Regions from separate parts of the Homo sapiens genome. Here all the other regions are linked to region 4. The links come from fine-mapping of genetic effects on gene expression. A gene starts in region 4. Each other region holds a variant in brackets. All regions are shown on one strand. Distances are from middle to middle.

Region 1 (8,110 bases), 350 kb after region 4:
ACATGAAAATGTGCTTTCTATCAAGGGATACGGTCAGAAATCGAACAAAATATTTCCTACCTGTCTATATCATTGGAGAAATTGTTCTAGGTCCTTTAAGGAATTTTAGGACCCTTACTAACACCTTTCTTCTTTTCCAATAGCATCATCTGTCTTAGATAATAGTTGGCCCTCTGGATCCCTGGGTTCCACATTCATGGATTTAACCAACCACAGATCAAAAATATTTGGAAAAACAAAACAAAAACAGTAATACAACAATAGAAATAATACAAGAAAAAAAGCAATATAGCATGACAGCTATTTATATAGCCTTTACATTAGGTATTATAAGTAATCTAGAGATGATTTAAAATATACAGGAGGATGTATGTAGGTGATGTGCAAATGCTAGGACATTTTTTTATCAGGGACTTGAGCATGTGTGGATTTTGGTATCCGAAGGGTTCCTGGAACCAGTCCCCCTCAAATACCGAGGGACAACTGTACTCACGAGACAGGTTGTTAGAGTTTAAGAGATTCCTAAATCATAAAACCTCTTGTAAAAAGGAAGACTTATACATACAAAGAACTCAGCTAGTCAAGACTAAGAAAGTACCAGTGGGAAGTAAAGCCACGGTTTTAAATAGTAATGTAATGAATGCTTCCCAAGGGCTTGAAAGTCGTTTGTCTTAAGCAGCACTTTTGCCAATTGTTATACTACTGATTTATTTGACAAGCCCCCTTTTTAGTTGTTAGTGAAAATCTCAGAGGTATCACAGATTTCAAATTAATGTGGTCTCAATCAGTGAGGCTTCCTCTTGCAATAATCTGAGATGGCAAGTAGCTGTTCTAGGATACCTCTTTTTGCTACTCTTCTGTCCCTTAACTGAATGTCATTTCAATACCAAGTCCTCTTCTCTAATATGCATTCAACCATGCATGTACAAATATTGACTTGTCCCTTTGCTCAACCCTAAGCCCACTGCACGCTTTACTATTTTCATTCTTACATAAAAGATCTAGAACAGAAAATAGATTGGAAGTACTATATAGATCCACTACATACAGTCAAGGGGAAGTCTCAAGTTTTCTCATGTTTCCTTTTATAACGTGGACAACTGAAAGTTAAATATGTCCGTTTGATATGGGTAATTTAAGCAGCTATAGGTACTTGGTGATTATTGTAAACCTAAGACCTTAAATAATACATAAGGAATCAATTTCAACACTAATAACATCTGATCAACAAAGAGTTCCTTTTATAAGATGAGAACGGCATGGAATTATTTCTAGTTGCCTTAAATGAATTTTAAACACCCGTTATGCGAGGGAGAGTAGGTATGGTCTGTAAGAGGAACTCCAGGAAGCCCATGTGGAATTTTGCAGTTTCCTCTTTACAGGTGACCTGTTAAACAGCCTGCATGTCATGGTAGTGAGATGTAACAGAAAAGCTATGTTAATTAAGGTGACTGATTACCATTCAAATACATGTAAATCACAGTCTACCCAGAGGAAGATAGGAGTCCTCTAACTGCAGGCTTCTTCCGAAGAATTAAAGGGCTTTCTGAAAAGCTGAGGCTCTCAAAGTGTGGGTATGGTACCCACACTGGTGGTGTCAGCATCACCATCACTGGGTACATGTCCATGGCATCCAGTGGGTACCAGGACATCCATTTCTTACCCACTACTAGAAATAAGCAATTCGCTTACGGTTAGCAATATTACCATGAAAAAATGTTAATTTGACAATATTGAGACCAAAGCAAAACAGAATTTTGATATTTGCTAAAAAAGAAAAGGCCTGAAATTAGTGGGCTGGTTGAAAGGGGACTGGAATTGCAAGCTGCTCCCATCTGCCATTCCAGCTTTTAAGGCTTCTTAATTGAATTGGAAGCTCAGTTGAAAAAAGAAAAGGATCATCTATTCTTTCCTCTGTTTTCAGATAAAGTCCTAAGAACTTTTTTGAGGGCAATTTATACCCATTAAAATGTCAAATTCACATATCCTTTGACCCAATAATCTCATTTCTAGACATGTTTGCCACAGAAAACTCAAAACAAGTATACAGTACAAATTAGTTGTACAGGCAGCTTTATTGCTACACTATTTGCACTAATGAGTACTTGAAGAGAGCATGTCTATCATTAATAAAGAATGGTTTATACTATGGAATACTATGAGGCCATTCAAAAGCATGAAATAAACCTTCATGTACCAACATGGAAGGATACCCATGATACATCGTTGAAAGATACAAGATCACTGAGGGAAAATGTGCATATGCTTCATCCAACTTTTGTGAACAAAAACCCAAACATGTAAACATATGGGTGTTGTAAGTATTTATATTTGTATAGTAAAGGTTCTGGAAAGATAGCACCAAGATTTTATTGGTGTTTTGCCCTGTGGAGTGGAATTGTATGAGGATTGGTGGTTATGTGGGAAATTCTTTACATTTACTTTATTATCGTACTACTTTCACTTTATTTTTTAATTAATATTTTATCTTTAATTTTTGTGGGTACATAGGTGTGTATATGGGCTATTTGGATATGGACATGCAATGCGTAATAATCACATCAGGGTAAATGGGGTATCCATCACCTCAAGCACTTATCCTTTGTATTACAAACAATCCAGTTATACTCTTATACTTTCTGATACTTCAGTTTCTCACAATGAATATTCCTTTTCTAAAAAAGAAAAAAAAAGGAAGAAACTAAGTCCCAGGCATATTAAGAGAGAGCTAATTAGCTGTAGAACTAATTCTGACACTCTATTTCCCAATCAGTATTATTCAGAATTATTTTTTACTTCCCTGTAATAGTTACTCAATTTTAGAGCCAGAATTTAGCCTAATCTACTCATTTAACCTCTAAGAAAACTGAGCCCAGGGGGTGCTAAGTTCCTGGAGAGTGGTCCTCAGGTGGTGACTGAGGACTGAGTTAGCCTCCTCCGGCAACCCTACCCCCGTCCCACCCCACCCCACCCCACCCCACCCCTGGGCAAAGTGAAAGTGAAGCAAACTGAGAGGAACTCCTCCACTGTCCCTTCTGCTTACTCAGCAGATGGGAGCCAGCCACTTTGTTTTGTCCTGGGGCCTGTCCTTGATGGCTTCTAAGACTAAAAATCAAAGCTGTAAATTTGTGTAATTTAGAGATTGAAGGTACTGATCGTTGTTGTCAGTGACTGGAAACCAGGCCTATTGAGCAAGAGCCATTGTTCAGTGCCTGTCAGCCCAGAGAGTGTGCCGAATGCACTGGCCATCTTAGACACAGATCTACTTGGTGGTGTTCTGTGTTTTTTCTCCTAAAAGAAGGCTTCTCACACCACCACTGATGAGAAAACAATTCGAGGAAAACGTAGGCACACTCAGTACATGAAGGGAGACACTATTAAAAGCAAAAAGAGGGTTATTGTCAAACTTAGAACGATGCTAATTTGAGTTCTGAGCTCTAAAACTGGTAGAATTCAAACATTAAATGTAGAATGTACTAGTATTCTATGCCTTAAACAGTTGAAAGGAAAGGCTTACATTGGCAAAATGTATTTCACACCAAATAATGATCCTAAATCAGTCTTTTGCAACGTCATAAGATGCAGCTTTGTAAGTATACTTTATTTCTAAACTTTACCAATCTCAAAGGCTACCTGGAGCTCTTATTTCTGAAATAATTTCAAGATGTTCATTCTCTACAGTTTTGTGGTATGATTAACTTCGAAGTCCACTGCAGACACAAATGAACTTTCCCTAAAATGCAACACGAGAGTACTAACTACAGTCAGTAAAGATGAGAGGGGGTTATTTTGTAGCTCTTCCTGCAGGCTGTGAGAATTTTTTTCGTTAAAAAATTCGTTAAAAAAGCAGGAT[A/G]TACTGCTTCAGTCCTTACCATGAGAGCCACTCCCATCGGAACATAAATTAGTCTTAGTATATTTCAGGTTCTCCCACATGTTCACATTCCAACTGGGTGCAACAGTTGACTTTTGTCTTTAACTTTCCTTGGCAAACCGATAGCATCAGAGGAAGAGATAAGCTGCCCCTTAGGGAGCTGATTGTAATGCGTTCCAGACGTCTGCACGCCCCTGGTGCAAGCACCAGCTTTCTGTTAAAGACTCAGGGTTATGTTGTTTGGATGTTTTGTTGTTTGCTTTTTGAAAAAGCCAGATCAGATTTTTGTCATTGTATAAACTCCAGTAGGAGAAGAGGGATGCGTTTTTAAGGTGATTTCTAGAATGCTCTGGCCGACTTAGCTGCAGAAGAAAAAGGAGAAAGGAAGAGACAGTGTATATTTTGGCACTGAAACTTCTTTAGTAACAATGCATTCATTCACAAATCTGGAGAGAACTGAATGTCTGCTTTTTAAAGTCTGAATTGAATTCTCGACTAGACTTTGAGACCCTGAGAAGGTTTTCAATCCAAACCATGCTTAATATTCACGTTTTATCATTATTGATGGAAAGTGAAAGAAAATTTGAATTCTTGGTAGCCAGATTTGACATTAGACTTTTACATTTATAACCTCACTTAAACTTTACAAGAAATCTCATTACAGGTATTATTATCCCCATTTTTAAAGCAAAAAAAAAAAAACACTGACCCTTGGAAAGAAGAACTGGCACTATTGAGATTCACACCACGTGTGGCTGGCTGCATCAGGGGGCTCATAAAGAATTCAGAGCTGGCCCCCAGCTTATCTTCCCCATTCCCTCTTCTCACCCCCAAGCTACCTCCATTAAAAGAGATGCCAGGCTATATTTATTTTATTATGTATACTTACGAATGCATTTGCTCATCTTTGGTGTCATAAAATACAATGAATAAACTCCTATCCAGTTTTTCAGTGTATTTCCTTAATTTTTAAAGCAATAAACTCCTTTAATCCTCCCTTATACTCAATACTAAAAAATGAAAGATCTGATTTTAAGCAGGAAAAGTTTTGTCTTAGCATATAGCCAGGAAACTTCATCTGCCTAGGTCCTGAAATGTAAGTGATCTGCCAGAACCAAGCGTGGGGGTAGCTCGCGAGGCCTCAGCCCTCCTGCTCCTGTGTGAGAGTGCTTTCTTCTGCAACCTGGCTCCTGGAAGGAATGAATGCTCCCCCTTCAGCCCCTACTCCCCACCAAGAATTTAAAAGATAAGAGGGAAACATTTCCCTGACTCTAAAATGGTTTGTTTTTAATATGGTATGTCCAGGCCTGCACTACTAAAATCCTTCATAAAAGTCCTCTAGAAGATAACGATTGTTCACATTGCAAACCTGTTTGAAAAGCCTGGAAAAAATGCGGTATACTGTAGGGAAAGTCAGTCTCCTTTTCTCACTTATATAATTTGTAAGTCTGTCATTTCTTTTTTTTTTTTTTTTTTTTTTTTTTTTGAGATGGAGTTTTGCTTTTGTTGCCCAGGCTGGAGTGCAATGGTGCGATCTTGGCTCACCACCTCCACCTCCCAGGTTCAAGCTATTCTCCTGCCTCAGCCTCCTGAGTAGCTAGGATTACAGGCGTGCACCACCACACCTGGCTAATTTTTTTATTTTTAGTGGAGACGGGGTTTCTCCATGTTGGTAAGGCTGGTCTTGAATTCCTGACCTCAGGTGATCCGCCCGCCTCGGCCTCCCAAAATGCTGGAATTACAGGCATGAGCCACCGCGCCCAGCCTAAGTCTGTCATTTCTAATATGCTCTCCTAGTTTTAGCTCAGTAGTAGCTGAGTATTATACAAAATAAGCTCTTTTTACTGCTGCTTAGCATGTGTCTGCGAACCCTAGCTCAGTACCTGGCATTCCATGGGCAGGCAAGAAAAGTTTGCAGAATGAATTAATCTGGCCCAAGTGTGACTGAGAGGCCAGAGGAGGTCAGTGGGTGCCGTCTCCCAGGCCAGCAGCACACACACAGCTTCCTACAGTCTCCCTTCTTGTCTTTGTCTCTTTACATCCTCTTCCCTTCCTCCCATGTGTCTCTAACCTGCCAATTGCACCAACATTTATTCCCTGCTGCAGAGCCTGTGGACCCACAGTCTGGCTTACCTTTATTTTCTCCATCTCCAGAATATGTCTCTCCTCCATACCCCCATAAATTAAAAGTGACTTAAATATATAAAATGGAAGAGAGAGGCAGGATAAAACTGTTTGATAACTTAATAGTACAACTGGCCAGTCTCTCGTAGATTTTTTGCATTCATTCCAAACCTGTTTTTTGTTTTGTTTTGTTTTTGAGACGGAGTCTGGCTGTTTCACCCAGGCTGGAGTGCAATGGCGCAATCTCGGCTCACTGCAACCTCTGCCTCCCGGGTTCAAGCAATTCTCATGCTTCGGCCTCCCTAGTAGTTGGGACTACAGGCGAGCACCACCTCGCCCAGCTAATTTTTGTATTTTTAATAGAGACGGGGTTTCACCATGCTGGCCAGGCTGGTCTCGAACTCCTGACCTCAAGTGATCCACCCTCCTTGGCCTCCCAAAGTGCTGGGATTACAGGCATAAGCCCCACGCCTGGCTGAAACCTGTTTCTATTAAAAGACTTATACCTTGGAACTTTAATAAGTAATTTATTAAAGAACCGTTAATATTAGACATTAAAATAATTATGACTCCCTTACCCCTATTTGATAAGCATATAGGTGACGTTACACTAAATACTATCCCTGTCTGCCAAAATAATCTAATGTTGAAGCAGTCCACCGCATTTCAGGTCTCCTGGAAATGTGCTGCGATTTTCTGAAAATTAGAGGCAACAACTTGCTGTTGAGGACAGGAAAAAAAGAGGAGGCTAAGACGCAAGGTCCTCTGAAGCTTCTGCCAGCTCTCTCACCAGAACCTAACTCTTGATACCAGTGGAGTGAATCTGGAAGTCTCCTGCCTTCCTGAGTGAGTTGGAGACGTAGACACTACCTGGACAGGCTGGAGAAATGAGGGACTTAAAACGTAGCACACCCCTTGCCCCATGCCACCTGACTAGAAATGCCTGCCAAAGGTATATGGACATGCAAGGCTGGCACAGATGTAAAGCTCAATATATTAAACTAGATAGCAAAGAAATATACACCAAGCCCAGCAATACAAAGCACCCTGCCTTCATGCAGTTAAACATTCTTCTGTTTTAGGCCACACTGTACTTGCTGGCTTCATGTGGCTTCATGAAGGCAAGTGCTGTGTCTGTTTTGATCACTACTAGATTTCTGGCACCCAACATGTAGTAAAAGCTCAATCAGTATTTGTTAAATTCATTGAGAGAGCTGGGAAAGAAGGTAGAATGAAAAGAAAAGAAAAGAAACAAACAAAAACACAAGCCTGGGCAACATAGCTAGACTATCTCTACAAAAATTAGCCGGGTGCAGTAACTCACACCTGTAGTGCCAGCTACTCGGGAGGCTGAGGCAGGAGGATTGCTTGAGCCCAGGAAGTCAAGGCTGCAGTGAGCCGTGACTATGCCACTGCACACTCCAGCCTGGGCAACAGAGTGAGACCCTGTCTCAAAAGGAAAGAACCATCCACAAAGTTAGTAGTGCCTACAAGAGTGTAGTTGCTCTTTAAGCTTGAATTTTTGGTTATTTTGCAAGAGGTATTATTTGCCTTAAGCCATGGTAATTAGATTTATTCTGCTTTGTGGGCTTTTAGATGAGTTAATCGGCTACAATTTCTCTTAATTCCCTCTAATGCTTTCTAGGTGTGGATATCAAGAAACCTACATGTTGTGTTTAGAATATTTTATGTATCACAGATATCAGTGGGTAGTAGACTTTGCACTGGAATTGCCCTTTTCCCTGCCTCAGTTGTTTTTGGTAATATTAACTCTTTATTTACTGTTAAACTTTACAAAAAATGTCAAGTTTACTTTTTAGGACTAATAAATTAGTTTTCATAATTTTAGCCATTTAGGAAAAACAGAAGAAACCACATTGCAGTGTAAAGGGAGAAAAGTCACACATAGCTAATTATTGATAGGAAAATGAGAAGTGAGATAGCAACATCTGAGAGGACTTCATATATGAGCATCTCACAGAGTAACTTTTTCTTTTAGCCAGCATAATTACTAGCTTTTCCCATGTGTGTACAGACATTTTTTTCCTTAGAAATTTTGGCCTTAAAAGTCAAATACAGGTTGTTTTACAGATGATCAATGGTCCTTCTAGAAGA
Region 2 (8,110 bases), 75 kb before region 4:
TAGGCTACATACCTAATTAAATCCCTACACTGTCCTCCCAATGCATTTACAGTAAACCACAAGCTGCTTAACTGGAAGTGTAACTTCCTGCATGGTCTGGCTTCTTCCCACCTTTCCAACCCCATCTCAGGCCACTTTCCCCGCCATGCACTCTGCTCCCAACATACTGGCCTTCTTTTCATACCTTGAACACACGTGTTCCACCTGAGGGCCTTCACATATACGACCCTGCTACTTAAAATCCTCATCCACCTCTTAGCTGACCATTCCTGCTTATCCCTGCAAAGCCCAGCTGAAGGTCATTGCCTCAGAAACACCTTCCCTGAGTACCTGCTCCAAAGTTGTTGTTCTTACTTCCCATTTTGCTATTATCTTGGTGAAAACTAACTGATTTTTTTTTCTTCAGAGTTTGTATCACAATGTTTACTTATATTTTCATTGGTACATTTACTTATTTAATTGCTCTCCCCTTCACTAAACCACAAGGTCAGTACTGGCATATCAGGGAGAAAGCACAGTGTCTAGCACAGAGTAGGTACTCAATTAATATCTGTTGAATGAATGAATCAATCCTCTTTGGTTCAATAATGCAAATTAAGACTTAGAGAGGAGGTCCAAATTTTGGTCTTAAACAGAATACATCGTGACAATTGGGTCTCAGCTGGAAAGACTTACTAATCAAGGCTAGTAATAAATACATAAAGAAGAATATTTTCATATCCCTTCTGACTTTGATCTAGTCAGATAATCGCCCACTTTACCAAATGCTAATCTTATATTTTGTATCAGCAGGCAATTTCTCTGAACTTTCTAGAATAAACAATTTTTAAAGCCTTCTTACAATCAAGTTTTGTGCATGTATAAATCAGAAAACCAAAGTTACCCACATTTTGTTTTTTGTTTTGAGATGGAGTTTCGTTATTGTTGCCCAGGCTGAAGTGCAGTGGTGTGATCTTGGCTCACTGCAACCTCTGCCTCCCGGGTTCAAGTGATTTTCCTGCCTCAGTCTCCCGAATAGCTGAGATTACGGGAGCATGCCACCATGCCTGGATAGTTTTTGTATTTGTAGTAGAGACGGGGTTTCACCATGTTGGTCAGGCTGGTCTCGAACTCCTGACCTCAGGTGATCCACCCGCCTCAGCCTCCCAAAGTACTGGGTTTACAGGCATGAGCCACCACACCCGGCCTCATTACCCATGTTTTAACATTATTGTGCTTAGGCATTTTGAGATGAGACCACAATCCAAGGTTCTAGATCATAAAGATCAAGGTTTTTGTTTTGTTTTGTTTTCCCTTAAAACGGGAATGTTCAAAGTCAGCAACACACAATACAGCCTGATGCATAAAAGGAAACAGACTACTTTCAGCACAAAGAAAGCAGAATGACAGCATGTCTACCAACTCTCAACTTCACACAAAAAAGGAGTAGATTCACTACATAGGTTTATCACCTAGTTTTCCTTTAAGTTGAAAATTCCTTGAAGCAACAAAATACAAAGCTTGAATTCTATTTACAGTTCTTTCCATTCATTTTGATAATAACATAGCTATGTCCTTCCAGATCTACACCATTCGCCACCTTCCTCTCTGGCCAATGAGTCTGACCTTGGGAATTGGCTCACCCAGCCTCCTTAGCCCTCTAGCTTCTACTGGGTTTGGCCAGTGGGAAGCCTAGGCAAGAAATGGGAAGGAGAGAAGACAGTGAGGTCAAGGTCTTTATTCTTTTGCTCTCTCTCCCTAAGAGGTCAACCTTGGCCAGCTGCATTTCTTCACCAAGGTCACTGTTCTTCTCAAAGAGACATATCTATAGAATCTCTCTTCTGTTAAGGTTCATAATGCTTCCCCCTCCCTTCATCCTTACAGGGTTGAAAGGCTTGTACTATTCTGGATTACTGCACTTACCTTGTGGTTTCCCTTGTACAAACCTTTGTAAACAGCCCCTTAGTAAAAACACTTTTCTAAAAATTGTACTAACGTGAATATGCAATCTGTTTTCCATTGGTACCCTGGCTGACGCACAACTTAACTGCCATCATTGAAAAAGCCCTATATTCTTTAAATTACAAATTATAGGGTGTATGCAGACTAGAACATCAACCAGAGAACTAACACCAAACCTACCTCATCAAATATAACATATCTGATCCTTTCCACCCATTTTTGGCGATGAGGAGCAAGCAACAGGATTTCAAAACATTCCGGCACTGTAATAAGTACCTACAAATATGAATGATTAGTGTAGCTAACTTTATGGAGCATTAATTTTATATCAGGCATAGTAATAGGAACCTAGAAAATATGCTGCTGCTGATAGCAGTTTCATTAAGATAATATTGCATCTTTGACGTTTTTCATTTAAGTCTTTACATTTATGAACATTTGGATTAATGAAAATGAAAAAGAGCTTCTACTCTGTAACGACTGTTTTACATTTTGTTTAGTCTTAAATGTCTACTTTGTGAATTCAATAAGGGAGACAATCTATCTTAATCTATGATTTACCTATCGACGGGTCCACTATCAACACACAATCTTTTTGAGACAAGGTTTTATTATGAGGATCCATAAATATCATTCAAAAGAACTAGCAATTTTGAATGGAAAGAAAAGGTTGGGTAGTCATTTAGTAATGCATTGGGTTTGTTAAATCTACTTGAATCCCTTTCTAAGTTATACTGAAATATCATAATCTTCTATTTGAAATTTCAGATCACAATGTAAGTATAAATATTGTTCACAAGACCTAGCAATTTTGAATGGAAAGACAAGGTTGGATAGTCATTTAGTAATGCATTGGGTTTGTCAAATCTACTTGACTCCCTCTCTAAGTTATAATGAAATATCATAACTTTCTATTTGAAATTTCAGTTCACAATGTGAATATCCTTAGAGATGGTGAGCCTAGTTCTTACTTTTTAGAGTAGAACAACCTTAAATTTTCCTTAGAGCAATTTCATTTTCTTTGTGAATTCAGTGAAATGATTTCTATAAGGGCTTGTGTTTTGCAGATTCCCAGCAAAACAGTTATATAAGTACTGCTCTATAATTTGATAATAAACTCATTAATTAATATGTCATACCTGACAGTTTAGTACATTGTGACAATAATCTCTTGTAAAAGCACCGCATAGAGTTCTGCCGGCAGGCAACGTTTTAGTAAAACGATTCTCAACAGTTGCAGCCACTTGACCAACAAGGGACTGATTGACAAGAAAAAAAACCATTAGTCACTTAGTAGAGAAGAGACATATAAAACCTTGAGGACAACCGAATCCATACACATACACACACACACACACACACACACACACACACACACACACACTTCAATGAAAATGAAATGAAGTAGGGAAAAATACAGATGGTAATGAAATTATCTGATACCACTGAGTATTCTCTTTGATCCTCCTTGATTTTAAACACACACACACATACACACACACACACACACACACACACATGAGATAGATAGATAGATAGATAGATAGATAGATAGATAGATAGACAGACAGACAGACAGACAGATATTACATATCATGTATATGGTGACAATGGGCAAATGAATGACTTTCTATTGAAT[A/G]TCTGGTTCATGATTCCAGGTAAACCACCATTGCTCTGCCTGGGATCCTCCTAGTGCTCTCTCTGCCTGTGTTTGTCGGGATCCTTTCTTATTTAAGCCCCTGCAACTTGCTGCCTAAAAGAGGCAAAGAGCCCATGTGGCCTTCTCTTAAAATTTTCAGCCCCTAGGATTCCCCTTCTATTGTTCTGAGCTTAACTATAATTATATAAAAAGATGTTTGGTGTCTCTTATCCAGCATTTCAGGTATTTTACACAAAGAGATTTTTCTGTTGACCTATATGGCCATATTGCTGGAAATGGAAGTCATATATACCTGGCTGTATTTTTTAATTGAAACAATATTAATTAAAAGAAAAACATAAATCTTCATAATTATAATCATAGCATACCACTCCAAGGGAGGGAGGGAAAATAAAAAAGGAAAGGGGAGAGAGAAAGAAAGAAAGGGAAACAACTTAAAATGTAAATTTTTAAAAAATTAATCCTTAAAAATACTATAGTCATCATTTTTATATTCATGATAGTGAAATATTTTCTAAAAATAAGTATAATTGCAGTAACTATAAATGAAAATATTAACATATGAGATGAAATAAAAATATCAAAAATAGTTTCTTGGCCGGGCACGGTGGCTCACGCCTGTAATCCCAACACTTCAGGAGGCCAAGGTGGGTGGATCACCTGAGGTGATCAAGACCAGCCTAGCCAACATGGTGAAACCCTGTCTCTACTAAAAACACAAAAATTAGCCCAGCATGGCAGCACGTGCCTATAATCCCAGCTACTCATGAGGCTGAGGCGGGAGAATCACTTGAACACGGGAGGTGGAGGTTGCAGTGAGCCGAGATCGCGCCACTGCACTCCAGCCTGAGTGACAGAGCAAGACTCTGTCTCAAAAATAAAATAACAGTGAATTAGATCTAGCATGTGACCGTGTGCATTCTTTTTAAAGGGGATGTTCAGGAACAAAAGCAAAAATGAAAGTCATTCAAACACTACCTTTGCGGGTGCAACGTACACAACCACCCCGACATCGCTCTCCCTCAGCACTTTCTCCATGCAGTAGTAGGAAGCATAGGTTTTGCCTGAGGACGTTGGGGCAACAATCACTGCTGACTCATTCTTATCTACCACATCCAGGAGTTCCTGCTGCAGGGTACAAAGCACCATTTGTGTCAAGAAAGTGAACAGCATGTTACCAAAACACAGACAGTATCCTTTGTACCTTCTGTCTCCTGTGCCTGTATTATGCTACCTTTGGGGGAACTCCCTGAACCCCTGAAGATTAGGTCTGGTGAACACTCGAAGGATTCAGGAAAATACCTGGATTACTCATGCCATTCCCTCAGAAAAGAGATTTTGTTTTACATTTTGGCCTAGAGAGAGGGTTTCATTTCTGCAAAATAGAAAGGGAGACTGAGTAAAACATATTTTTCCATTAGAAAACACTTTTTCCAATTGTCATTGAGTAAGTACAGAAAGAGGTTTCCAAAACTGAGCTGTAAGAACTAGTAATGCCACATTAGCATGCCTTCACATACAAACAGGTATCAGTATAACTTCCACTGATGGTGAAAATAAAAAGGCCAAGAAGGGGAAGAAATGAATGATTTCTCATACTCTAGTTACATTCTCCAGGCACAGTAGAGGAAAGACATTAAACAAGATTAAGAAGTTTATGCAAAATTTGACATGTAGAGACACAGTAATGAAAAGTTCTGAAGTCACACTGATTAGAAAAGTACAATGTTTGTTGTCATTACCTGCCATGCGTTGGGAATAAAATCCTGGACCCTGGGATCCCGATCTTTTCTTTCATCTCTTATCAAGTAATGGCCCATGTATTGCAGTTGAAACCGAGCTGGTCCAATGTCAATCGAATATTTCTTCTTATTTTTGTCATCTCCTATCTGTTATTTTAATATATTATTTGAAATCAACTTAAACTTCAAAATTGAATAAACATTTATTAAATATCCACTGAGCACATTCTATGCACAAGGCATTTTTACTACACTTTTTTTTATTTTTTTGAGACAGGGTCTTTCTCTGTCACCCAGGCTGGAGTGCAGTGACGCCATCATAGCTCACTGCAGCCTTGAACTGCTGAGTGCAAGTGATCTTCCTACCTCAGCCCCACCACTCCCTATCCCATGCCCTGGCTGAGTAGCTGGGACTACAGGCACATGCTATCAATTGTGGCTAATATTGTGTGTGTGTGTGTGTGTGTGTGTGTGTGTTGTAGAGACAGGGTGTTGCCATGTTACCCAGGCTGGTCTTGAACTACTGGGCTCAAGTGATCTGCTCACCTTGACCTTCCAAAGTGCTGAGATTACAGGCGTGAGCTACCATGCCTGGCCTACTATGCTTTTAAATAGTGTAATATTTAAGTAAGAAGAGTTTTCCTGCCTAAAATGTTATTCTTGGGAAAAGTCAAATAGCAGATATTAACGTTAAAAAAAGTTCATCCTGGAATTGGAACCTGGAACCTTATTAAAGACCATTCTTCAATCTCACTACATTACAGTTTTTAGATTGCACTAGAATTAAGTATAGGATTCATTCCTGTTACCAAGAGGGTTTAAAGTGGCATCTGGATATCATCTAGTATTTAATTTCTGTTTTCAGGAAGCATCTGTACAAATTTTCTAATTTTAATTTACTTCAAAGTTTGGCAGCTAGGTTATTAATAAGTAATCTCATATCTATTATTTTATAAACTAGAATCAGAGTAAACATAGTCAATTGATAACTCTATATGTGAGATACTTCATTAGACCTATTAGTTATTCTTCCATATTAAAATTGAGTAAAAATTTAAAGTATAAGAAATTCTAGTTCTCTTACCAGAGTTGGATCCAAAGAGTTTGCCAGATCATTAAAGCCTAAATATTTAAGGCATTTAGCTATATATTGATGATGTTCTGCTTCCAAAATTTCTGGGTATCTCTCCAGGAGTGAATGAATCCTTTTCATCATTTGAACAGCTATACTTAAATCTTTCGAAATTTTGCCTTGTTAAAGAAACAATAAAATTGTTATAAAGAACACCAAAAATAACTGGTTGATCACTTACGACAATCATTGAGTTAATCAATTAACCTCATGTGATTAAACCTCACTATTTTACTTGACTTTAAAGGAGATTTTAGAGCATTAAAAACTAAAACTCATGATTAAATTAAATTAAAACTCCATCTACACACATTTAATTATCATCTTAAGTAACTTAGACATAGCTGGGTAAGTATAGGCAAAAAAGAAAAGAAACAAACTTTGTGATTTATAGCAGAAATATGAACCATTTAAACTGAGCTCTGTACTCATTTCCAGAGAAAAATAACACAATAACCCACATATTATTTGTGTGTCTTCTACTCTTGTTCACAGGAAAAAGTCCTATGATTTTAGATGCCTGACCAAAACATGAGCAACATTTATCAAGGCCTACTCTTGACCACATACAGTACTTGTATTTATGAAACCATCAGCAGAACCCTTCAATTATTGAGGGCTAAGATACAACCTCACTGCATCCCAATCATTCTATCCAGACTCTCCTAAGCCCTTCTATTACCTCCTGTTCACTTATAGCCTCTTTATCTCTATCCCACTACTAACCACTCCATATAAAGTCATATAAAGTCTTTATCCTCTTTCCTCTTTGTTAAGAAATATCCTCTTTCTTAACAAATACTACTGAGCAACTGCTTATGCAGACCACCAATGTATGCTTTAAGGAAGTACAAATGAAATTTAAGACAGAGTTCTTACATCAAGGAACCTTCAATCTAATTGGAGAACAAGGGATTAGTGTTGAAACAGATCAGTAAAATATCTAAGTGATTTACAATTCAGGGTCCAAATGGAGTCATAGAAGCAGTGTTATGTGAGCAGGAGAAGTTGGGAGGACTCCACAAGAGGATGGCCTTGAAGGACACACAGAATTTAGGCCAATAGAGACAAGCAGAAGAACATCTGTAGCAGAAACTGATATTACCTCCTCAACATCCATTCTCACCCAATGCTTTCTTATAAATCCCCATACTAATGGATACTGCAATAGGTCCAATTCAAAGTTCACATTTTCTAATCTCTCTGTGGTTTGGTGCGGTTTTGTTACTAAGTTTGGCCATTGAGAAGTAAGCAAAAATTGGTGGAATTTCTGGGATGAAGCCTCCTTCCATAGAAGAAATACAGCATGAATGTACAAATTTGCCCTTTTTCTTCTTCCTACTTTGTTTTGGAATACAGTTATCATGGCTGTAGCATCAGCCACCAACTGCATTCATGACATAACTTTAAGAATACAACTCATGCACTAAGAACGGTACAATACGATGATAGCGGAGCCTAAGTTCCCAGTGACACTGAACTGCCTATCTCTGGACTTCTTTTACATGAAAGAGAAATAAACTATCTTTTTTAAGCCATTATTAATTCCTATCTCTGTTAATAGCTAATGGCAATTCCTATCTGATATGGCATCAAGTAAAAACACATATGCTAAAGCTTAGAGATGAAAATGAG
Region 3 (8,110 bases), 300 kb after region 4:
GAACATCATAAAGATACGCACAGGAAGAGCACAGCCCATCTTTCCCTCCCACAGTCGTTATCTCCTACCCTGTGGTTCTTTCTCTGCACTGGGTGAAATCCCAAGAGACCTCATAGCTTTCTAGTAGCTTTCAGATAGAAGTCTTCCCATCAGAAACAGATCATTCTCAGTATAGTAATTAAAATCTTGTCTGGTTCAGTCATCTAAACTTGGGTCTAGGCCTAGGTGAAACCTCTCCCCACCCTCACACTATTCCAGGAAGGCCACGTTCTGCCTAGGGTATCCACCGGGGAGGCACAGGGTTGGCCTCCTCTCTGGCTGTCCCCAGCTTTCTAGGGGCTGTTTCTCCTCTAGGTGCAGTGGCACGGCTCCTCCCGTCCTCAGCCTCGACGGAACCCCTTTTCCAGGGGTTCTCCAGGCCCGCTCCTCCAGCTGCCCTCTCAGTTAGGTTCCCTCCCCCTGCAGGATGGTCCTGTGGATGGAGTTCCTGTGATAGTGACCCGGTAGGCTCCTTCCAGGCCCACCTGGCCTGAGGCGAAACTCCTGCATGCCCTATGGCCTGTCCTCGGGCAGTGAGAGTGTCACCCTCTCCCACCTGCCTGAAATTCCAAGGGACTTACTCAGGCCCTCTAAGGGGTCCTCTTGAGGCCCTCCCACTTCACTGAAGGTGAGGGGAAAGCAATCCTCTCCTCCCCCAGGGTGGAAGACACAACACACATGCGCACACGCATGCGCGCGCACACACATAGACATACGCGCAGCGCACAGACGTACGTGCACACGCACACACACATGCACGCACACACACACGCACACACACACACACACACACACACACACACACCCCTCTGGCTGCCTCAACCCCTCTTTCACTAGCTAGAGGGGTTATCAGTGGCCAGGCTAGCAGAACTGATTTCTGGCTCTGTGGACATAACCTACACGTCCGTCTTTTAGCCTCTCGGTATGGTGGCTTAGCCCTTTCCTTCAGTGGGTAGAGTGTTCAGCATCTGTCTTACTGCTCACAGCCTGTGGGGAATCAGCCAAAAGTGAGGCTGAAAGAATTGCCATGTAATATCTTTAACCCTGTGCTTAGTAAATAGTAAATGCTCAATGAATATTAGCGATCATTAGTAGTAGTGGTAGTCATAGTAGTGTGTTTTCTTATGGTCTTACTCTGTTTGGGCTGCTGAAACCAGCCATTATAGACTGGGTGGCTTATAAGTAATAGAAATGTATTTCTGCTAGTTCTGGAGGCTGGGAAGTCCCAGATCTAAGCACCAGCAGATTCAGTGTTTGGTGAGGGTTGGCTTCCTGCTTCATAGAAGGCTGGCCTCTCACTGTGTGCTCATGCGGTGGAAGGGACCGGGAGCTCTGGGGCTAAAACTCTCATCCATGAGAGTTCCACCCTTGTGACCTAATCACCTCCCAAAGGTCCCACCTCCTAAAACCATCACGCCAGCAATTAGGATTTCAACATAAGAATTATAGGGACACACAAACATTCAGTCTTTAGCAAGATCTCACAATGTCTGCACTATATATAGCTTTACCACCATTTGAAAAGTACAATTCCTGTCAGTGTTTTTGGTAACCCACTGTTGTGAAATCAATTTAAAGGTTCTTGAGTGGCAATTTGAAAATGAAATCGAAGAGTAGAAAAAAGAATAGAAAAATCAAGAATGCATAATAGGTGTTGTTTGGAAAATTTGTGATTTAAGATAATTAAGTATATATATGTTGCCATTTTAAATGTATGTATTATATTGGTTGCTGTCAACAAAATATGAACGCTACAGCATCTGAGGTTTTCCAGTTGTCCACCACAATGATTAACATGTGAGAATCTTCCTGAAAAAGTTCAATGATTAACATGTGAAAATCTTCCTGAGAAAAGTTCCTATGTGGATGAGCTCTAAGGAATGAATATAGAATGTTCTATTCCCCACAGGTCTCTGCAGTGAATACAGTTAATTGGGAGCTAATCATGAACTGCTTTATATTTTTCCCTAATTGTCTTTTTTTTTTTTTTTGAGACAGGGCCTTGCTTTATCACCCAGGCTGGGGTGCAGTTGTGTGATTATAGCTCACTGCCACCTCACATTTCTGTGCTCAACAGAATTCTCCCCCCTCAAACTCCCCCGTAGCTGTGACCACAGGCAAGCACCACCACATCTGGCTATTTTTTGTACTTATTTTTTTTTATGTTTAATGTTTGTGGGTACATAGTAGGTGTATATATTTATAGGGTATATGAGATGTTTTGATACAGGCATGCAATGTGAAATAATCACAATGTGAAATCATGGAGAATGGGGTACCCGTCCCCTGAATCATTTATCCTTTGTGTTACAAACAATCCAATTACATGCTTTTAGTTATTTTTAAATGTACAATTAAGTTCCTATTGACTATAGTCACCCTTTTGTGCAGTCAAATACTGGGTCTTATTCATTCTTCTATTTTTTTGTACCCATCAACCACCCTCACCTCCCACCTTGCCCCCCACTGTCCTTCCCAGCTCTAACTAATTTTTTTAGTATTTATGGAGACAGGGTCTGCCATCTTGCCCAGGCTGGCCTAATTGTTTCTTGAGAATAATTGTTGTATCCCCCAAACATAAGGAGGAGAGAAGTCGTTTTACATTTCTGATGATGCTTTCTCAGAGCCCAGTGCAAAGGAGAACACCAGTCACTGCTGGCGGGTGTCTGACATTCAGTTTGGCTGTTTCACTTGTCCTGTGATAGCTAACTGATCTTGCTGTCTCATCATGCATTATTTGCACGATTGGCAGTTATTAAGGTACACCAGGCTAGAAGGGAGTCCATCTGGCTCTCCGCTGGGCCCTGTACTCTTGGCCCAGGATCTGAACCATAGCCTATGCTTAATAAATATTTGTGGAATGAGTAAGAGGTTCCATCTATGAGATGAAAACCACTGGTGGCTGATAAGTATTCAAATGGCATATCTTCTGTAAATGTTACAGAACGTCAATGCCATTAGGTGCTTGAAGAGAAGTTTAAAAATATTCATATGCAGGAAATGAGATCATAGAATTTCTCATAAAAATGCAGTTTGATCAAATTGAGGGGATGGATACCCACTTACCTTTTCATAGTAATAGTAAATTTGTTATAGAAAACACATTTTACCTTCCTTGTCTCCTAATTCGAGGTCATGTGAAGCTTAGCTAGAAGGAGCAAAGTACATTTTGTTCTGCCTGAACTGTCTCTAGTGAATACAGTTACCCTGGGCTTTATTATGAATACCTGGCCTGTTCCACAAAAGCAATGAATAGTGCTTCAAGGAAGAAATTTTACTTGTTTTATTTCCCAAGAAACTCACCAAATTGAGTTGTCTCTACTTTCCTTTCAAAACTATAACTAAGTACAGTAGTAATGTCAGGTCACTTATGATTTTGACCTGTGCCAATCTTTGAATATTTGAACATTTTTATCTCCTGAAAAATTACTTGGCTTGAGGGAGACACAGTTGGATGAGCAAAGAAAAAAAGAAACAATCAAATGATTTTCTGATGCTTTCGAATGTTCATAGGCTTGCTTTGAAATCCCTCTGTCTATATCACCCCATCC[T/G]GTTTTTGACTTCTAATCTCCTTTACCAAATACTATGTAGCAATATTTTGTGAGTCATCCAAAAGTTGAGTATATTTAGACCACCGTGACAATCAAACAGTATAAACAGAACTACTCATCTGTCTGTTCATCATCATCCCACGCAGGGAGTTAATTCCTAATAAAGGAGTTTATCAGATCACCCTCAATTACATCACTTTGGGATAATTTCATACCCAAGGAAATTTGAGGCATTTTTGCCTTGGAAAAGAGCAGGTGCCTTACGAAAAAGAAACTAGATTTGTGAGAACTGGGCTTATGTTTCAAATTTATATTCTCAACTTTACTCTGAAGAGATGGCTTGGAAGAAGTGACGGTAACACAGAATTGCCAGTTTGCTTGGCAAGGTCAAACTATTCCATATGTTACCTTGCAAGAAAAATATGTTAATTTAAAAAATATCAGAGACCAAATGAGAAGTTGAACACACAGCTGATTTAGCTCAGATTTTTGTTTGTTGTTATACCGATTGCCATATTAGCTCCCTCTTCTACCACCTCAACCCCACCCCCACCACCATACAGCTGCTCGCTTGCTCGTTACAAAGCATATTTCCCCCTGTATATTAATGTCATATTCAGCAAATCAGGAAATTTTGCAACTTCCCTTCTGATCCTAATCTGGCTATTTTTCTTGAGTTCAGTGTCATCAAATCAGAACCAGACACTTTTGTTAAGGGTATCACATTCAAAATTGCACACAAACAAGCCCCACCTTATTTTTATGAAAAGTCTGCCCAGTTACCCGCTTTGTCCCGACACTAATAGAGCCAAGGCTCAGGGTTTGCAATGTAAGGAAATGTGGAGTACATTCCAGCATGCTTTCTATGATGAGTAGATGTTTGATAGTACACCTCACTTATCTGTGCCTCCCCAGTTGGGGAGCCTTTTTCTTATCTAAAAGGCCTTGCCATATCAAAGGTAAGGATACTGTTTGGTAAATTCCTCTAAATAAGAATGCCACTAGGAGAAATTTAAATTATATGTAAAGGAATAAAAGTTGAAAAATAAAGGGTTTTTTGTTTGTTTGTTTTGAAAAGTTGGTTTCAAACTTAAAAATTTGCAAGTGTCATTTTCTGAATTGTGGAAATAGAGTAAAATTTATCATTTCTTATAAAGTTTTAACATTAGAAAAAAAGCTTCTTATGACTAAAACTAAGGCATTTGGTAAAATTTTCTTACCGCTTCTACTATAATATCTATTTCTCTTTAGATAGATAAAGATACAGATTTGCAGTAACATTGGAAAGTAAGTGAAAAACACAGAGGAAATTAAAACTTTACTATAACCTACCTGTGTAGAAATAATCACTGTTAATTTTAATGCATAAATATAAATTTTTAAAAAGTGGAACCGTATTGTAAACTGATTTTTATCCTACTAAAACAAACATTAAGTATCTGCTGAAATGTTTTAAATTTTTTCAAAATATATGTATTTTCTGACTCATTTGCTATAATACTTAACTCATTGCTGCCCATGTAAACTTGAACTGTCTCATTTGTTAAAGCGTGAGAGAATTCATAGTTAATTCTTTGTACAGCTAAATTGTTCAGTAGGAAATGCAGAAAGAAGTGTTAAAAGAAAATCTTCAGCCAAATTTAATTTAATTTAAAAGAGTTTAATTGAGCAATGAACGAATCATGAATCGGGCAGCCCGCAGAATCACAGCAGATTCAGAGAGACTCCGGGGGTGCCTTGTGGTCAGAACAAATTTATAGACAAAAAATAATAATAATAAAGTGACGTACAGGAATCAGAAGTGAAGTACAGAAACAGCTGGATTGGTTACAGGTCAGTGTTTGCCTTATTTGTACACAGTTTGAATACTTGGCAGTGTGTGAGTGGTTGAGGTATGGCTGCTGGGATTGGCCAAGACTCAACCACTGTTACAGATGCAAACTTTTAGGCTGTCAATCTTGTTTACCTATTAAGTTAGGTTGCAATTCATCCACAAGGACTCAAATACAGAAGTATAGAGTCCTTCTCAGGCCATATTTAGTTTGTTTTAACAGACGTAGAAGAGAAAACCCTTGTTCTTTGCTTTGTCCAGGGTAGTCAGCTGATTGGAAAGGTAACCGAAGTCTCTCAACATCAAAACATTTCTAATGCAAATTCTTTAAGTCGTACTGTTCCTACTCACCTTGAACTTATGAGCAAATCCCTTATCAATTGTGCTACCTTTTATTCAGATAATGAATTTGGGAATAGGGTTTGGAATTCAAGTCCCATAGCTTAGAAAAGATTGAGTACCTGGCAATTCAGTATAGTTGTGGATTGCAATAATTCCTGTGCTTGTTAAGTAACCAAGATTTTTGTGTGTGTGCGAAAAGCATGTGTAAAATAATTGACAATCAGCACTTCTGTTGGATAGATGGGTTCCTGAAAGAGCATATGTGAATAAATTTTGGTGTATCTGATGCTACTTTCCTGTTAAGCTACTATGGAAATTATCTTAAACATTATATTCTTTTCCCTGAGGCAGAAAATGTAAATAATACATTCCCACAGGTAACAACTATAACTATTTCCTATGTATGTTTTCAAAAATGGTTCATGCACTTACGAGCATTTGTGTACTGTATGTATTCATGCACTTATATAGGGTACCCTAAGAGATGATTTTTACATGAGGGCCTATCACACTTACATATTCTTACTTCTTAAGGGAATTCAAAGGTAGATACTTTGTTGTCCCTAAAAAAGGTACATGAAGATCTATTTCCCTCTTATCAGAGGCAGGCTTCATATCTGTAGTAAAGGAGAAAAATATAGAACATTTGCTTTAAAAGTTCCTCTTTTTATAAATAATACTTGCTAACTTTTATGCTTCTGTTTTATAAGGAATTTCTTCCTTGTGCTATATACAAAAGTTGCTTCCAGGTGGATTAAACAAGGCATAAAAAGATAATAAAGGAAAAATTTGATAAGTAGTTCAAATAAAAAAATTCTGATCATTAAAAGGCACCCTAAGGAGTATTAAAAGACAAGTCATAGGGTGGAAAGTATTTGCAACTTATGTAGACAACACTGGACCAGAATATGTGGGTTACAAATGGAATAAATAAAGAACTCGTACAAATCAATTTTTAAAAGCTACCAGGCAATAAAAAATAAATAAGTGAAAAGTAGAACAGCCACTTCACCAAAGAGAGAATTCAAATGGCTAATAAACATGAAAAGATGTTCAATCTCATTAAGTAATAAGAAAAATATGAATTAAAACAACAGAGATACCATTACACACCCATTTAATTGGCAAAAATTTAAGCCTGATAATACCAAGTTCTGGCAAGGATGTGAAGTAACAGGATATTTCATATACTGCCAGTGGGAGTATAAATTGTTAAAAACCACGTTGGAAAAGAGTTTGGCATAATTTGATAAACTCAAAGTTATGCAAACTCTATGACCTAGCAAACTTCACTCTTGAGTATATTTCTCAAAGAAATGCTTACATACGTGCACCCAGAGACACGTAACCCAAATGTACATAGCAGCCCTGCTCATAATAACCCCAAACTGGAAATATTCCAGAAGTCCATCAACAGTAGAACAAGTAAGGAAATTGTGGTAGAGTAATTCAATTAAATATTATTCAGCAATTAAAATAAATGAACTATAGCTAGACGAAACAACATGATAAATCTTACACACATAATATAGAACAAAAGCATACAGACAAAAAGAATACAGTCAGATTCCACTGATATAAAGCTGAAAAAGGAGGGAGAAACCAAGTACCTTGCTCAGAGATGCATAACTGAATAGTAAAGTTAGAAAGAAAATCAAGGAAATGATAACTCTGCAAGTCAGGATTGCGGTTACCCTGGGAAAACCCAGGGGTATGAGGGGGAGGCACACACAGGAATCTTCTGTTCTATTTTTTTACCTGAGCAGTGGTTACAATCTGGGTGTTTGCTCTATAACTCTTTGTTAAAGTGTAAAATTTTTTTGTTTGTTTGTTTGTCTGAGATGGAGTCTCACTCTCTTGCCCAGGCTGGAGTGCAGTGGCACGATCTTGGCTCACTGCAACCTCTGCCTCCCGGGTTCAAGCGATTTTCCTGCCTCAGCCTCCTGAGTAGCTGGGATTATAGGCGCATGCCACCACACCCAGCTAATTTTTTGTATTTTTAGTAGAGACAGGGTTTCACCACGTTAGCCAGGATGGGCTCGATCTCCTGACCTCGTGATCTGCCCGCCTCGGCCTCCCAAAGTGCTGGGATCACAAGCGTGAGCCACCACGCCCAGCCTGTAAATATTTTTTTAAAAGACGTGCAGATAGAAATTATCTTAAATAATTGCTTACAAGACAAAGAGAACGACCTGCCCCCAAGTCCCCCAGATAAAGTAGGATATCACTAAGAATCCACACCCAAGTAAAGTAATTAAAGGGGTTAAGATGTCTCTCCTTTTGTGATTAACACCCCGTCGTGCTTGCAGAGGCACCGCTGGGTGTCAGGGAACCTGCCTGCTGCTCA
Region 4 (8,110 bases):
TTTTGTGCATATGCACAAGTTAGCAAACATCCCAAGTAGCAGAAACATGTGACCAAAAGATCACCCACAGGCTCAGGCTACATTTATGCAGATTTAATCACAGTTCATAAAATCGAGCTCATGAGGGACAAATCTGGAGTTCCCTGCTACGTACAGATAGATATACCAGTTTAATCAGACAAGTCTTTGGGGCCATACCTGATTCTGTGACATGTACACAAGCCAGATACAAAGTATGAGGAAGAAGTAGAAAGACTGGTCGTGGCTTGAAAGACACTTGTTCCCAGGATCCCCAGATGGACCATTGGGACAATTCTGCAAGTGTTTCATGCCTCCAATTTTAGTGTGTTCCTTGATCAGCCTTCTCAATTACCATTTTCTCACATGCTCCGTGATCCTTGTTTCCTGGTGGTTGACGCTGGGAATGAAGAGAGGAATAAAAGTGAAAAGGGAGTAAGTAGACTTGTTTCTTGAAACTTAGGATTTTCAAACTTCCTGGATCGTAAGAAAAAGAAAACGTCCAAGGGGGATGAATGAGCAAGTCTGCTGCATTCCTTTGCACACCCCTTTCATCAAGGAAACTTTGAATACCTTTACTTTTTCTATTGGCTGCCCAAGAGTTTGTATCTCCTAAAACAAAGTTTGTAAACCAGTATCCTCGATTGACCTGAACCTGGGAGGCAGACTGATAGATAATCTCAAAACAGAGTGATCTACAGCCTGGAAATTCTGGTGAAGAAGAAAAATCAGTGTATGAGAGAGCTAGAGGAAGAAAGTTTACAGTCAAATAACATGTTTGAACGTGCAGTTGTGAAAACAGAGCATGCCCCAATGTGGCTATAGGACTGATGGGTTAAAGGGAATAGAGGTGTGGTAGCCAACTGCCAAGATGACCACCAATGCATTGTCTTGCCAACTGGTTTTTACGCCTCTATGCAGTCTCCTCCCACAGTGGATACTGCCAATTTGTATAACTAAAGGATACTGCGGGAAAGACGAAATATGACCTCCAAGGCTGGATCATAAAAGATATAATGGGGCCGGGCGCGGTGGCTCACACCTGTAATCCCAAAACTATGGGAGGCTGAGGTGGGTGGATCACCTGAGGTCAGGAGTTTGTGACCAGCCTGGCCAACATGGTGAAACCCCATCTCTACTAAAAATACAAAAAAATATCTGGGCGTGGTGGTGGGCACCTGTAATCCCAGCTACTTGGGAGGCTGAGGCAGGAGAATCACTTGAACCCAGGAGGTGGAGGTTGCAGTGAGCTGAGGTCATGCCACTGCACTCCAGCAACAAGAGCAAAACTCCACTTTAAAAAAAAAGACATTGTGGCACAATCCAGCTGCCATGAAGCTAGGAAACTCAGGCAGTGACACAGAGAAGTCAACAGGGTTCCAGCCAATAACAGGACTAACTTTCCAGGCACGTGAGTGAGCTGCCTTGGAAGCAGATTTTCCAGCCCCAGCCATGCTTCCACCTGAAAGAAGCTGGGGCAACATCTTCAGTACTATCTCATGATACCCTGATCTGGAATTACCCAGCTAAGACTAATGGATTCCTGACACATAGAAACTGTGTGAAATAACAAATATATATTGTTTTAAGACATTAATTTTTGCAGTAATTTGTTATGAAGCAGTAGATAAGTTATATCTGATTTTGGAGGTGGAGGAGGTCTGTTTGTGTGATCTGTAAGAGGAACAGAGATGAAGATTCATAGAGAAAAGCAGGTCCAAAACCAATATGCCAACATATAGAATAGACAAATGGGTGCTGAGTCACCCAGAATAATGGCAGGGTGTGGAGTGAAGAAGAGAACCAAGAGCCCAACTAGATCCAAAGTCTTAATTTTAAAAAGTGGGATGGAGGATGGTTGATGCAAATATAAGTGCTTCAAAAGAGCAGGAATTTCTATAAGAAGAAGTAATCATTTGAAAGCTGAACTGGAGCCCCATGAAGGAGCCACAGACTCCCTTTCCCAACCTTCGTGCACACAGAAATGGGCTCTGGTGGAAAATATGAAAGTGCATGAGAAATGATATTACTGTCCACACACTAATCTCATCCTTAATATCAACTGGACCTTGCTATACTAACTTAAGAGTGTTGATCAAACTTTCTAAATTTTTTTGATGCCAATTTTCTAAGGAAAAGAACTTCTTATAAGATTTTTAAAACAAGCTTGGTTTGCTGCACTATTTGCAATACACACACAAAAAGGTCACATTTCTGTGTCCTTTTGAGTAAAGTCATATCCATCTTTGAAGCCTCTCTCAGGACCACAAGCTGTTTTTTTTTCTTTTTTCTTCTTATGGCTTCATCACTTCACTGGTGTTATACCAGGATTTAGGAACCAAGCAATCCAAAGAAATGTGGGAGAGGCCTCGTCTGGCCAGTAGTCCAACATGATTGCCTCTGGAATTCACCATGAGACTCACAGTTCACCAGAAGGCAGAGGCAAAAATCAGAGTTGCCAATTAAAATTATTTCTAAAGATGGGTTCACTGCTTCCTATTCCCAAGCCTTTCTGAGACTCCATGGGGTGAATCACTTGCTTCTTTTCTGTATCTCCTCCTGCAGGCATTTAAGCTTTGTAATTTAGTTACATGCATACTTATATTTATCTCTTTCCAACAATTTTGTTCATTTCTGATATCTTCTATTGTCTTCCCTCCCAATTTCTGCCCTTTTCAGTTTTTACTATTATCTTGTGGTTTTAGGAAAAAGCAGATATAAATATGTGTTTAAGCAATGCTATGGTTTGAAGGTTTTTGTCCCCTTCAAAATTTTTGTTGATTCCTAATCCCCTATGCAACAGTATCAGGAGGTGTAACGTTTAGAAGGTGATTCAGGAGGACTCCTCATGAATGGGATTTGATGCCCTTAGGGCTTGATGGAGGAAGTTTGACCCCCTCTTGCCCTTCCACCTTCTGCCATGTGAGGACACAGTGCTCAAGGCATCACTGTGGAAGCAGAGACAGGAACTTCACCAGACAACAAACCTGCTGGCACCTTGATCTTAGACTTCCCAGCCTCCAGAACTATGAGAAATCAATTTCTGTTCTTTGTAAATTACCCAGTCTGTGGCATTTTGTTATAATGACACAAACTAAGACAATCAATCAGAGTTATATTTCCTTGTAAGTATAAATTTTATTTTTTTATTTTTATTTTTATTTTTTTTAAGAAGGAGTCTCGCTCTGTCACCCAGGCTGGAGTGCAGTGATGGGATCTCGGCTCACTGCAAGCTCCGCCTCCCGGGTTCACACCATTCTCCTGCCTCAGCCTCCCAAGTGGCTGGGACTACAGGCACCCGCCACCACGCCCAGCTAATTTTTTGTATTTTTAGTAGAGAGGGGGTTTCACTGTGTTAGCCAGGATGGTCTCAATCTCCTGACCTCATGATCCACCCACCTCGGCCTCCCAAAGTACTGCAATTACAGGCATAAGCCACCACGCCCAGCCGTAAGTATAAATTTTAAAATCACTTCTTAATTAATATAATAGATGAAATGACCCACAGAAGTATCCACTCACAGAAAGGACCATTTCTAAAGGACCAGTTTGGCCTATAAAGAAAATACAATAGCAGACCTTCACAAATTTTCTAACATCAGAAAAGAAAAAATATTTAGATATTAAACTGAATCAAATGTGATGGTCTTACCCAGACAAAGGAAGACTCAGCACCCCATTTCCAAGTTAACTGGGAGCTTTTGTGTTGCTCTTTTTGCCCCCCTTATATTTGATTCTGCTACCTGACCTTTAAACAGAAAAGCTTTCTCTTCTTGCTATCTATGTTTGTTATTTAAAAGATCAAAATATTAAACTCTTGCTATATCTATTTGTCATTTGAAAGATCAAAATATTAAATGATTGTGAAACATTTTTTGCAACTGTAAGAGGGTTGATACTTTTCCTGAATATTATTCATTCAACATTCATTTATTTCTTTGACAAATATTTAAGAGATGCTCATGATGTCCTAGGCATTGAGCTAAGAACTCAATGTTGCAATGTGGATAAGATCCAGTCCCTGTGTGTTCATACTTATTTAATACTATTATAGACAAGGCCTTTAATACATACCATAGTCATATATCAATTTTTAATTAGCAATATGAAATAAGAGAACAATGGGACTTTCCACTCAATTTGACAGGTGGCTAAATTTTCAGTTACTGAATTTACTATTTTAGGGTAATCTAGCACATGACCAAAATTTAAATGCACAGAACAGAAGATCAGAGTAAGAAGAGCTTCCATTTGGATTATCACTTTTTCTACTTGGAGTCACATACTGTACTTTAAATTGATTAAGAACATGTTAAAGGTCCAGGTGGTGATTTCCAGCTACAAGTCCAAAGTATAGAAGAATGTGTTTAAATCCTACGTTTATCAGATCCATAAATATAGTTCCTTCTATGTTAAGTGGCTTTATTTCTAAGAACCCAGCCCTCGGTCCTGGGGGTGCTTCCCAGCCCGCTGCTGGAATTCCTGATCGTGGCAGTCTGCTGAAACATGAGCTCAGTTACCAAATATAGCTGAGTGGAGTAAGAGGACAGATGAGAGTCTGAGGCCACAGTTGCCTCAAAGTGACCACGGACCAGGCAGTCTCTAATGAATAGGCAAGGCCACAACCTCCATTCTCCCAGAAAAGAAGAAATGCTCATCTGAAATTCATCACCTCTCTGGAGTCTTCAAACTGACCAAGCATTGAAAAGGTCTGTAAGGTGTATCTTAATATACTAACTAGTAGGGCAACATTTTAAGGACTTAAAAAAAAAAAAACTAAAAATACAAAAGTTTTTCTGAAGATATGATACTATTTACAAGATACCTTAATTATTCTTTTGCTTGGAGAGGAAACGTAATGAGAATGTTACGGTTTTGCCAAAAACAGATAATACGTAAGATTTGCCTGCCCACTTCATCTCTGCCTTTGCTGTCAGAGAATTACACTTTCTGTTATAAGCTTAAGCATGCTAAGATGGTGCTATCAATTCCAAAAGGATTAAATGTATTTATGGAGCCAGCTTTTGTCAAGATCGTGTATGTGTTATGTTTCACAGAAAAGGAAAACGCAGCTTTCTAGACCCTCACCCATATTTAAGCTAGATAAGTGATGATGGCTTAAAGTGATAGACCTTAGATTTCAGTAACATTATAAATTGTTAATTACACTTTCAAAAGATTCTAAAAGTAACTCACTGGACATAATTAAATGAGTTGGGATAGTAACAGCAGGTATTTTAAATTATATTCATGCATAAAATTTACATACATATTTTTAATAAGATAACGCTTACTAAGGGAAACCACAGTGCAATCTCGAGTCCAGTCAAGTTTAAACATCACAGAATAATTTTTATCATGTTGTTTTAAGTTGCACATGAAATTGTCTTGAATCCAATATAGGAGGTTGACATAAAATGATTTCAGGCTCATATTACTTATTAACATTTGCTAAAAATACTAATTGCCTTCTAGTATGAATAATGTGGTGACATATAAAGCCATTTCTTGGCAATATAAAACTATTACAAATCTATTCAATCACATATATGCAGAAATTAAATCCTCATTTCATGATAAATGTGCCTTCCAATGTTTTTTCTCACAGAAAGAACTTGAATACTCACCTCAATTATTCAGATTTTTTTTTCAGATTTTTAAAATCAAAGTCTCTTTGACAAGTTATTGCTAACAGCAGAAAAGGCCGATGAGGTTTATCTGGCCACTAACTGCCCTGTAAATACATGATTACACATTCCTAGAATATAAATTAGTCCTCTGGCATCCTAGAATCTGGTATGGATTAGGGTCTGTATCCCAGGGGTTCTGTGTCAGCTCTTCCTCTGGGTTTCTCTGTTATTGCTAGAGCTGAATATTAAAACTGGCCTTATAGCATATTTCACAATAGAATGAGGATCTGGATTGCACTGGACAAGTACAATCACTTTGACCTCCTTACCTCATTTTTTAAAAATGTAGAGGGCAATCATTATTCAGGTTTAAAAATAAATATGACAAGTTCTTTAAGAGATACCAAGTGGAATCTGCAAGGCCCAGACAAGAGCTCCACTTCTTAAACAATATGTGTGTGGAGGCTGTCAAAGGGTATTGCAATTACTGAGCTCCAGTTAGAAATTCAGGCCATCTAGAGTTAATGACTGTGTCCCGGTGAAATTACAGCAAAGAAAACAAAGATTGAACAAAGTATCTTCGACTAAAATTTCTAACTGTTAAATCATATTAGAGAATATAGAAGCAAATTTGGTAAATAGGTTTTGAATTTAAGTGAGAAGAATAAAGCCCTGAATTGGATAATGGTAATGGAAATGGATAATTCAGAAGTAAAATCTAAATATTTGCAATGGACTCAGTATGGTGAATAAAGTTGATAAGATGAACAGGACATGGGATAACTTCAAAAACTCTGTAAAGTATCTTATTTGGCTGTTTCTGCATTAAATGAGCTATTAGATTATGTCCTTGAAATTGAGATTAAATAAGCTGTTTAAAGAGATATTTAAAACTGTAGGATAAATATATCTGCCTGCATTGACAATTTAATAATTAGAAAGGAAAATAATCCATGTGTATTTATTAAGAAATAAATTATAAAATTGTAGTGCATTTTCTGCATCAAACATAAAATTTCATAAAATTTTCGTGTTTGACTTTTGCCCTAAAGGACCCTTTGTAGCAAAAAAAAAAAAAAAAAAAAAAAAAAGGAAGGAAGAAAGAAAGGGAGACGGGGAAGAAGGAAGGGAGAAGGGAGGGAGGAAGGGAGGGAGGATGGGAGGGAGGATGGGAGGGAGGATGGGAGGGAGGAAGGGAGGGAGACATGGAAGAAGGGGGAAGGGAGGCAGAAGGGAGGGAGGGGGGAGGGAGGAAGGGAGGGACTTTATTGATTTAGTCTAGGGGGGTTGCCTGTGATTCTGAAGCATGAAAATTAAGTGTTAAAGCTTTTCTAACTTTGGTTTTCATAGTTTAGGTTTTATTAAAAGATATTTCAATATCTAATATTTGTATCAATGGTTTGCATTACTTTTTTAGTAATTGCTTAAATATGAAAATAAAACTGCTAAACCTAAAATTAAAAATCACTTATAACTTTTTTTCAAAAATTACAAAATAAGCAACAAAAGATCCCCCTGCATGTCCCACCTTTCAACTCCTACCCCTGCCTAAATCCCCCCACAGAGGTCAGTGTTGATTGTTTGGTGTATGTTATTCCAACCATTTTCATATATTTATTCCTATCTATGTATACATTTTTAAATGACTATGGGAATTTAGCTATTCCACCTGGACTCTCTAAAGAATCTGCTGAATGTGGTACATGGTATTAAGTGATCCTTACTGCCTGTCAATGTTTTTCTAACATCAAACTTTTTCTTTCAAAATTGTAGCAGTTCTTCATCGACTCAAAGTATTTCACAAACAGACTTCAAAAGTTTTCCCCTTATCTAAATTTTTAAAGTAATTTCCTATAATATCTCCAATGAGAGAAGAAAACTTTGCAGTTAAATGCAGGCTTCCACCCTGAGTCTGCCACTTTCTGATGGCTCAGGTTGGGCCAAATAATTGAAACTTTTTCTGCTGCAGTTGTGGGTAATACAAACAATAAAATAGAAAAATAACATCTACTACATGGATTGTTCTGAGGATCAAACTGTTCACTTTTGAAAGCAGGTAACTTCCAAGCTGTTATGTAGGAACAACTTGCATTGTCACTGAATTCTTTCTACTTACTAGACTCTGCTCTTTCTCATGTATATTCCTTGTCTTCCCCAAGTTCCTCCACGTCAAAGAAATCTGTTGTAATTTCAACAGTCAATAGTGCCTTGATTCATGGGGATCATGCCAGGGGGTGGTCCCATAAGTCTTGTTTGTTTGTTTTTTGAGTCAGGGTCTCACTCTTTTGCCCAAGCTGGAATGCAGTGACCTGATCATCGCTCACTGCAGCCTAGAACTCTTGGACTCAGACAATCCTCCCACCTCAGCCTCTGGAGTAGCTGGGGCTACAGGCACACACCATCACACTCAGCTAAGTTTTTGGGTTTTTTTTTGTATTTTTGTAGAGATGAAATCTAACTAT

Which allele goes with the higher level. Positions count from the first base shown, and alleles are read on the strand shown. Sizes are in standard deviations (SD) of each study's normalised expression. Not every link is listed here.
For the expression in macrophages after interferon gamma of the gene that starts at base 4,585 in region 4, G is the high allele of the variant in region 2 and A is the other (small effect, 0.29 SD a copy in Alasoo 2018).

Evidence for each region. PIP is the estimated chance that this variant, and not a neighbour inherited with it, causes the effect.
Region 1: its variant is fine-mapped to the expression of PALLD in whole blood (TOPMed, PIP above 0.99).
Region 2: its variant is fine-mapped to the expression of PALLD in macrophages after interferon gamma (Alasoo 2018, PIP 0.95).
Region 3: its variant is fine-mapped to the expression of PALLD in whole blood (TOPMed, PIP above 0.99).

Annotation. Positions count from the first base shown.
Region 1 is chr4:168,845,195-168,853,304 of GRCh38, forward strand. The region is part of intron 10 of PALLD (palladin, cytoskeletal associated protein); the gene reads left to right. LOC102723331 (a long non-coding RNA gene) reads right to left here. Exons shown (of 2, transcript XR_007058358.1): 2 at 1-8,110. Among named protein-coding and RNA genes, the nearest start is that of CBR4, 160 kb to the right of the region's middle. The variant A/G (reference allele first, on the strand shown) is at 3,854.
Region 2 is chr4:168,417,181-168,425,290 of GRCh38, forward strand. It overlaps DDX60L (DExD/H-box 60 like), which reads right to left. Exons shown (of 38, transcript NM_001012967.3): 15 at 6,428-6,594; 16 at 5,344-5,490; 17 at 4,580-4,729; 18 at 3,081-3,200; 19 at 2,122-2,217. Among named protein-coding and RNA genes, the nearest start is that of DDX60L, 59 kb to the right of the region's middle. The variant A/G (reference allele first, on the strand shown) is at 3,581.
Region 3 is chr4:168,793,696-168,801,805 of GRCh38, forward strand. All of the region lies in intron 10 of PALLD (palladin, cytoskeletal associated protein), which reads left to right. Among named protein-coding and RNA genes, the nearest start is that of PALLD-AS1, 150 kb to the left of the region's middle. The variant T/G (reference allele first, on the strand shown) is at 3,591.
Region 4 is chr4:168,492,468-168,500,577 of GRCh38, forward strand. PALLD (palladin, cytoskeletal associated protein) reads left to right here and starts at 4,585. Exons shown (of 22, transcript NM_001166108.2): 1 at 4,585-4,727. LOC107986198 (a long non-coding RNA gene) reads right to left here. Exons shown (of 4, transcript XR_001741448.3): 2 at 199-418.